Linked DNA regions of Homo sapiens: regions 2 and 3 are each linked to region 1. A link means that fine-mapping ties the variant in region 1 to the expression of a gene that starts in the linked region. Tissue or cell type: whole blood. Region 1 holds a variant in brackets; each other region holds the start of a gene. All regions are shown on one strand. Distances are between the middles of the regions.

Region 1 (2,687 bases):
ACCCAGCTAATTTTGTTGTATTTTTAGGAGAGACAGGTTTTCACCATGTTGGCCAGGATGGTCTCGATCTCTTGACCTTGTGATCTGCTTGCCTTGTCCTCCGAAAGTGCTGGGGTTACAGGCGTGAGCCACCGCCCCGGCACTTCTTTCTAACATAGTACTGGATGTCCTAACCAGCACAGTTAGGCAAAAGAAAGAAAGAAAAGGTATCCACATTGGAAAGAAAAAAGTAAAATTGTCTCTATTTAGTAATAACATCATCTTATATATAGAAAATCCTAAAGACTTAGCCAAAAAAGTATTGGAAAAGGTAAACAAGTCTAGTAATGTTGAAAGATACAACATCAACATACAAAGATCAGTTTCATTTCTATACACTAATGAAAAACTATCTGAAAAAGATTAAGAAAACAATTCCAATAGCAACAAAAAAGTACTTAGATATAAATTTAACCAGAGATGAAAGACCTGGTTAAAATTATGGAAAATTATAAAACACTGATTAAAGAAATTGAAGAAAACACAAGCAAATGGAAAACTATCCTGTGTTCATAATTGGAAGAATTAATATTGTTTTGATGTCCTTGACTAGCAGAGCTGCCGCTTGCCGTAGTGTGCTCTGCAGGAATTGTGGACGAACACAGCTGAAGCTTGCCACTGGCCACTCCATCCCCTCAACCAGTGACCCTGACCACTTGATTGGTGGAGCTGCTGCCTGCCACATGTGACTCCAGTGATCTAAGGACTTGTGGAGTCACATGTGACCAGACCACCAGTGAGCCGAAACTTTCAACTGTCAGAGGTGCTGTACACCACACATGTTCCCCAGGAATTGGGAATTAGCCTGCCCAGCATCTGCTCCCACCAGAAATACCACCCCCTGGAACAGTGGAGGCACCACACACTGCCTGCATCCCCCAGGGTTCCAAGGACTGGCGCACTCAGCACCTGCTGCCATGACTTCATATCCTTGATTGGCAGAGTGACTACATGCTGCACGCAGCCCCCCAGGAGTCTCAGGAACAGCCCATTTGGTGTCCACCACTGATGGTGGCCATATCTCATTTACTTGCAGAGCTGCTGCATGCTACGTGCATCGTCTAGGACTCCAGGTACTGGCCCACTCAGCACCTGGCACCTCTAGTAACCTTGCCTCCTCGACTGGTACACCCCTGGGACCAAGTGACCAGTGGAGCTGTCATGTTTGGTGTGCACTGCCCTTGCCTAAAAACCAGCCTAGCTGGTGGCCCCAGCTCCCTGCAAAGCTGTGCCATTGCCTCCAAAACTACACACAGCCTACAACATTGACACACTTGAAGGTACTTCCAATGTTGATTACAGCTGAAGCAGTTAC[A/G]TGGAAATTATTAATATAATACAGCACCCACGTATCCAACCAACACCATAGGACTCATCTACAGGAAAACATCTTTGCCTATAAAAGTTTCCACCTCAGGGAACTAGAAAAATAAAAAAAAGAAGCCCCAAGTTGAAAATGTTTGAAATAACAAAAATTAGAGCAGAAATAGAGAGTAGAAAAACAGAAGAAAACATCAACAAAACTAACAGGTGGTTTATATATAATGTTATTCCATAAAATTGGAAGAGGTTATTGTTCCACCAAATTTGCAGATATCAATGTAGGAACCCAAGAAACATGAAAATCCAAGGAAATATGACACCTCCAAAGGAACACAGTAATTCTTCAGTAACAGACTCCAAGGAAAATAAAATCTATGAATGCCTGAAAAGGAGTTCAAAATAATGATCTTAAGAACACTTAGTGAGACACAAGAGACTAGAAATGGAGAATTTAACAAAATCAGGAAAACAATTTTTCATCTAAATGAAATACTTTTTAAAAGCCCCTTTCCCCATTTAAAAAAAAAAAGAAATATTCAACAGAGAGACAGATACTACAAAACAGAGCTAAACAGGAATCTTGGAGCTAAGGAATTCAATGAATGAAATAAAAACATTGCCATTTGATGGATTACTATAGTGATAAAATTTGATTCCTTTCAAATTTATACAGGAGATAAATCAGAAGAAAGAATTTCTGAACTTGAAGACAGGTATTTTGAAATAACCCAGTCTGATGAAAAAAAGAAAGAGAAAAAAGAATGAAGAAAGTATACAGGACTTATGAAATACCATTAAGTGAAAAAATTTTCATATTATGTGAGTTTCAGAAGAAGAGATGAGAGATGGTGTAAATAACCTATTTAATAAAATAATAGCTGAAAACTTTGCAAGTCCTGGAAGAGATGTGGACATCCAGTTCCAGGAAGCTTAAAAGTTTCCAAAATATTCAACACAAAAAGGTCCTCTACATGGCACATTTTAGTCAAATTGTCAAAAGGACAAACAGAGAATTCTAAAATGAGCAAGATAAAAGTGTCATGCTACGTACAAGAGAATTCCCATCAGACTAACAACAGATTTCTTTCCTTCTTCCTTCCTTCCTTCCTTCCTTTCTTTCTTTTTTTTTTTTTTGATGGAGTCTTGCTCTGTCGCCAGGCTGGAATCCACTGGCACGATTTCGGCTCACTGCAGCCTCTGACTCCCTAGTTCAAGTGATTATCCTGCCTTAGCCTCTCGAGTAGCTGGGATTACAGGCACGCACCACCACACCCAGCTAATTTTTGTATTTTTAGTAGAGACGGGGTTTCGCCATGTTGGTCAGGATG
Region 2 (2,687 bases), 51 kb after region 1:
ACACTTCACCTGTACTAAAAGGGCCAAGAGTAAATGTCTTGTTTTGTTGTTGTTGTTAAACATGTCTACAGAGTTGGCAGTTAATGCTGAATTTGTCAAATAGCTCTTCCAAAATTATACTTGTATTTAAAAAATAAATGGATCTACCTAATTTCTATTCATCTAATTTGCAGTTTTGTCTTATTAAAGTGGTATGTTTTTCAATGTATTTTTTTCTGAAGTTGATCTCTTTACATTTCAGCTATTACTGTAGGCAGAAAGAAATTGACTTGTAATCTTTGATTTTTTTGCATTTGTAATGGCTTTGTACTTAAGGTAGGATTACATGTTTACAGATTGTGGGGGAAAAAAAAAGAAAAGTGAAGGGAGAGAAAAGACAAGGCGAGTGGCCAGAGACCCTCAGGATCCAAGAGTTAACTCTGATTAACTCAGATGCTTTGTTCAGCCAATTTCAGACTTCTTTTTTCCTAATACAAGCACTTAAGGATAAGCCTTTCTGTAAGAACTGCCTTACATGCATCATAGTATTTTAAATGTAGTGTTTTCATTCTTCTTCTAGTCTAATTACCTTCAACTTCTATTATTAGTTCTCTTAGACCCATTAGTTATTTAAAATTGTGTTATTAACAATTTCTAAGTTCATGGGGTTTCCTCTTTTTAAATTGCTCTTTACCTTCGTTGTCCTTCGTGGTGCTCTCCGTGGAAACCTGCTTTCTGATCTAGTAAGTGCTTATTCTTTGTGCATGTCCCTAGACTTGAAATCACTGCATAATCCCTAACTGTGTGTGTCCTGGCTTAGTGCATCTAATGAATGACTGAATGAATGCATCTTTGCCTTTGCCTTACCCCCGGGCCTGAAACATCGTCTTGGTCCCCTTCTCAATACCTTGGATCCTTGGAGATCAAGGTCCTGGTTGTTCTGGCAAGTTCAACACAATCTGGCCTCATGATCAGAGTCCTGTCCCTGAACTCAAGACAAGGGAGGGATGGGCAGAATTACCTCATGCTGTGCCAGGAAATATGAGTCTCATGGGGCATGGCCTGTGTGCCTGGGCAAATTCACTGCCTCACTACCCTGTGCTGAGATGATCTCTTTTTTTTTTTTTTTTTTTTTTTTTTTCTGAGATAGAGCCTCACTCTGTCACCAGACTGGAGTGTAGTAGTGCAATCTGGGCTCACTGCAACCTCCCTCTTCCCGGTTCAAGCAATTCTCCTGCCTCAGCCGCCCAAGTAGGTGGGACTACAGGTGCGCACCACCATGCCTGGCTGATTTTTGTATTTTCAGTAGAGACGGGGTTTCATCATGTTGGCCAGGATGATCTCGATCTCTTGACCTCGTGATTCACCTGCCTTGGCTTCCCAAAGTGCTGGGATTACAGGCATGAGCCACTGCGCCCGTCCAATCTCTCTTTCAGGGACAGATGTTCACTCTCTCTTGCAGCTCTGCCTGCCAGACTAAGCCTGAAAATATCTCTGCATCTGGCATTCCTTTACCACCTATGTGGGGCACAACCCAGAACAAAGTCCCTCCAAGTGTACCCTACTCTCTTTCCATTATCATTTCTCTGGTCTGAGATAGATGTTTATGACCTGCCAATAAATGCAGTGACTCAAACTCCAGTGCCCATACTCCTCATTCATACAGCCATGTTTAGGGAGGCTCTAGGGAGAAATGCACAGTTTGACATCGTTCATGAAGAGCCTCTCCACGGCTCCTGCGCCTGAGACAGCTGGCCTGACCTCCAAATCATCCATCCACCCCTGCTGTCATCTGTTTTCATAGTGTGAGATCAACCCACAGGAATATCCATGGCTTTTGTGCTCATTTTGGTTCTCAGTTTCTACGAGCTGGTGTCAGGTAAGCCTTTCAGTTTGGACTGTTGTTTTTCTCCTTGTTGAATAATATTTTGAGTTCATTCATGACAATGATCTCAGCACAGTGAGATGCAGGAATCTTTGGTGCTTGCATTCTCCAGCTTCTCCTGGCCTCAGGCTGGAAACTACCAATGCCAGGAGCTGTGGGAAGCACAGGGCAGCAGGAATTGAGGAAGACTCCTTGGGCTGTTTCTCAAGGACTTGGGCACTATCACAGTAGCTCAGAATAATGGGAGCAGGCCCTGGGAGCAGGGAGGGAACACATTGAGAACGCCAAGGTAAACACATTGTTCTCCCCAGGTGGGCTGTGGGGCTTAGGCAGGGGAAGTCTCTAATAAAATCCCCAGGTTTTTGACTTGGGTGCCTGGGTGGAAGGTGGCACTGTTTAGGATGTTTGGAGAAAAAGACAATGTGTCCAGTTATGCACATGCTGAGTTAGAAACACCTGTAGTTATGGGGTAGAGCACCAGACCTTTAAGTGAGGAGTAAGTTGGAACCTGGCATAGTCTAGGCAGAAACCCACTCTTCTTTCTCCTTCTAGTAACCATCAAGACAAAGCCTGGTGTATAGGATATTCAGTAATCAAATAAATTTTGCAGGGAGAGATAGGGGCTGGAGTAGAACACTGGATTCTGGGTGGTCAGTGTTAAGCCACAAAAAGTTCATTTGACTGTGTTCACTTTCTGTCTGGAACAGTTCCATCCTGCTATTTGTCTACCTATGACTGTTTTGCTAAACAAAGCCAACAAAACAGAAATAAGGGGATCAAAATCCATGTGTGCTCAGAGGGCGTGGTGGCTCACACCTGTAAT
Region 3 (2,687 bases), 38 kb before region 1:
TAAATCTGTATTTCTGAGACAGCATGAGATCAATAATTTTCTATTCTACTCTCTTGCTTACAACATTCAACAACTCATTTCCTTTTTTTTTTTATCACAGAGTAATATTCCATTGTATAGATGTACCATAGTTTGTGTATACATTCTATGTATCATTATTGAATGATATCTGGTTGCAAACATTTTTGGCAATTATGAATAAAGCTGCTATAAACATTCATGTGCAATTTTTCATGTGGACATATGTTTTCAAGTCATTTAGGTGAATAAAAAGCAGTGCAGTTGCTGGATTAGGTGATAAAAGTATGTTTAATTTTGCAGGAAATTGCTGAACTGTCTTCTAGAACAACCGTACCGTCTTGCATTCCTGTCAGCAATCAGTGAGAATTCCTGTTGCTCCGCATCCTCACCAGCATTTGGTGTTGTCAGTGTTCTAGATTTTAGACTAAATGCAGTGTTTTCATTTTGTCCTATTCTAGATGCTAACTTTTATTGTGATTTAGTCTCGTGAGTTGTTTTAAATTGTTACATAAGAATTTCTTAGTGTATAGAGTTTCCTATGTTTTTGAATTACTTTTTAATTTTAATTGCATTATGATTAGAGTATGTTTATTTTGATGGTTATCTGTGGAAATTTTCATTCTGATCTAGTTAAGTGGTGACTTTGTGAGTTTCCGTGTGCTTAAAAAGACTGCAAATCTCTCATTGTGGCTGCCCTGGAACTTAGTTTATATAATAAATAAGTTTCCTCATGTCTGAACCTGCCCAGGCACCTTTCCCAATGTATCAGATGTTTAACACTAAGGATCTGTTTTGTTCTGGAAAGTTATTTTTATCTGGCCTCATGATTACAGTCCTGGCCCTGAACTTCAGAGAATGGAGGGGTAAGCAAAAGGACCTCAGACTGTGCCAGGAAATGTCAAGTCACCTGCTGTAGGCTACTACTAATGGAGCATGGCCTATTTACTTGGACACCAAACTATCCAGTGCTAACATGAGGTTTTTCAGGACTAGATCCCATGGCCATACAGCCCTGCCTGCCAGATTGGACGTGAAAAGTATTTCCGCATCTGACATTCCTGTTTCACCCACACAGGGCATCGTTTTGCCCAGGACAAAGTTCACCTCCAATCTTATCCACACTATTTCTATCTTTGCTTCCTTGATAAGATATAGACATTTATGCAGTGGTTCAAAGTCTAGAGTCCCTACACTTCTGGTACATGACAGCTGTGTCTCGATGGAGTAGACTCTCAGAACAGCGCAGTTTGCCCTCCGCTCACGCAGAGCCTCTCCGTGGCTTCCGCACCTTGAGCATTAGGCCAGTTCTCCTCTTCTCTCTAATCCATCCGTCACCTCTCCTGTCATCCGTTTCCATGCCGTGAGGTCCATTCACAGAACACATCCATGGCTCTCATGCTCAGTTTGGTTCTGAGTCTCCTCAAGCTGGGATCAGGTAAGACTCATCTTTGTTTCCTCCTTACTAACTAACAGTTTGAGTTCTTTAGCTACAATGGTTGCAGCATAATGGAATGAAGGCATCTTTGTCGTTTCCATTCCTTTGGCTTCTCCTAGCCTCAGCCTGGGGAAGGATCAGGCGCTGTGGAAACAATTATAGTAGCCCCCAAATAATGGAAACACGGGTGTTGAAGACGCACCGTGATCGTTGACGGGGACACACCTAACGTGTTAAGGTGAATAAATTCAGTGTTTCTCCCAGATGGGCTGAGTGGTGTAGGCAGGGTTATTGGAGCACCAAGGTTGCTGACATGGATGTCCATCTGGGAAGAGACACAGTTAGGATTTTTGGGGAAAAGACAATGTATCCAGCTAAAGACATGCTGAGTTAGAAATGTCTGTGGTATGAGACACGAGGGTGGAGGAAGGTGTACAGGTCTTGAGGTGAGAAATTAGCTGAAACCTGGCATATTCTGGGAAGAAATCCACTCTTCTTTCTCCTTCCAGTTACTGTTAACACAGAACCTAGTATATAGGATGTTGAGTGACTGAATACAATTCACAGAGGAAGCTTGAGGTTGGGGTAGAATGCTGGTGGCTAGATGGTCAGTACCCAGCCACAGAAGATTCGATTGACTGTGTTCACTTTCTGTCTGTGAAGGTTCATCCTGCCACCTGTCCACCTATATCTTTTTTGCTAAATGAAGCTAAGAAAACAGAAATAAGGGCAATCAAAACATAGAGCATGTTTCCTTAAAACAAAAACCCATATGTGTTACTAACAGGAGACGCTCTCGTTTCAGTTTGTTTTCATTTATTTTCTGACGAGCTTCTTTGTTTCCCTTCTGTTTCCGGGTGAGGCAGCAGGACATCCTGGAAATGATCTTGGAGACAGAAACATTTTATTTTTAAAAACTCTTATTTCATTTTCTTGTGAGCTTTATTGTTCACAGCTTCCTTAGGTGTTGGTTTGCTTATGATGACATGGAGATACGATCACATTCCTGCTGGGGCTGTGGTGAGGACTGCATGAGCTTGTGCATGTAGAGTGCACACAGCTGCACGGGTGCATGGCATGTTGCAGCAACAGTCTTGTTCCTTTCTTATTTTCAAGGGAAGGAAGTGGAAGGAGTGAAAGGAGATGTTATAGGCAAGAGAGGTGACAGCAGCAAGGGCTGGCCGGAGAAATGGAGGTACCCTGAAAAATGTTTCCTTGCCTCAAGAGCCCC

What was found. PIP is the estimated chance that this variant, and not a neighbour inherited with it, causes the effect.
Region 2: BTNL3 starts here. The variant in region 1 is fine-mapped to the expression of BTNL3 in whole blood (INTERVAL, PIP above 0.99).
Region 3: it holds the start of BTNL8, and the variant in region 1 is fine-mapped to the expression of BTNL8 in whole blood (INTERVAL, PIP above 0.99).

The regions. Positions count from the first base shown.
Region 1 is chr5:180,936,066-180,938,752 of GRCh38, forward strand. All of the region lies in intron 3 of BTNL8 (butyrophilin like 8), which reads left to right. Among named protein-coding and RNA genes, the nearest start is that of BTNL8, 38 kb to the left of the region's middle. The variant A/G (reference allele first, on the strand shown) is at 1,355.
Region 2 is chr5:180,987,220-180,989,906 of GRCh38, forward strand. BTNL3 (butyrophilin like 3) reads left to right here and starts at 1,627. Exons shown (of 8, transcript NM_197975.3): 1 at 1,627-1,858. The coding sequence starts at 1,810. It also overlaps the pseudogene ARPP19P1.
Region 3 is chr5:180,897,904-180,900,590 of GRCh38, forward strand. BTNL8 (butyrophilin like 8) reads left to right here and starts at 1,256. Exons shown (of 8, transcript NM_001040462.3): 1 at 1,256-1,456. The coding sequence starts at 1,408.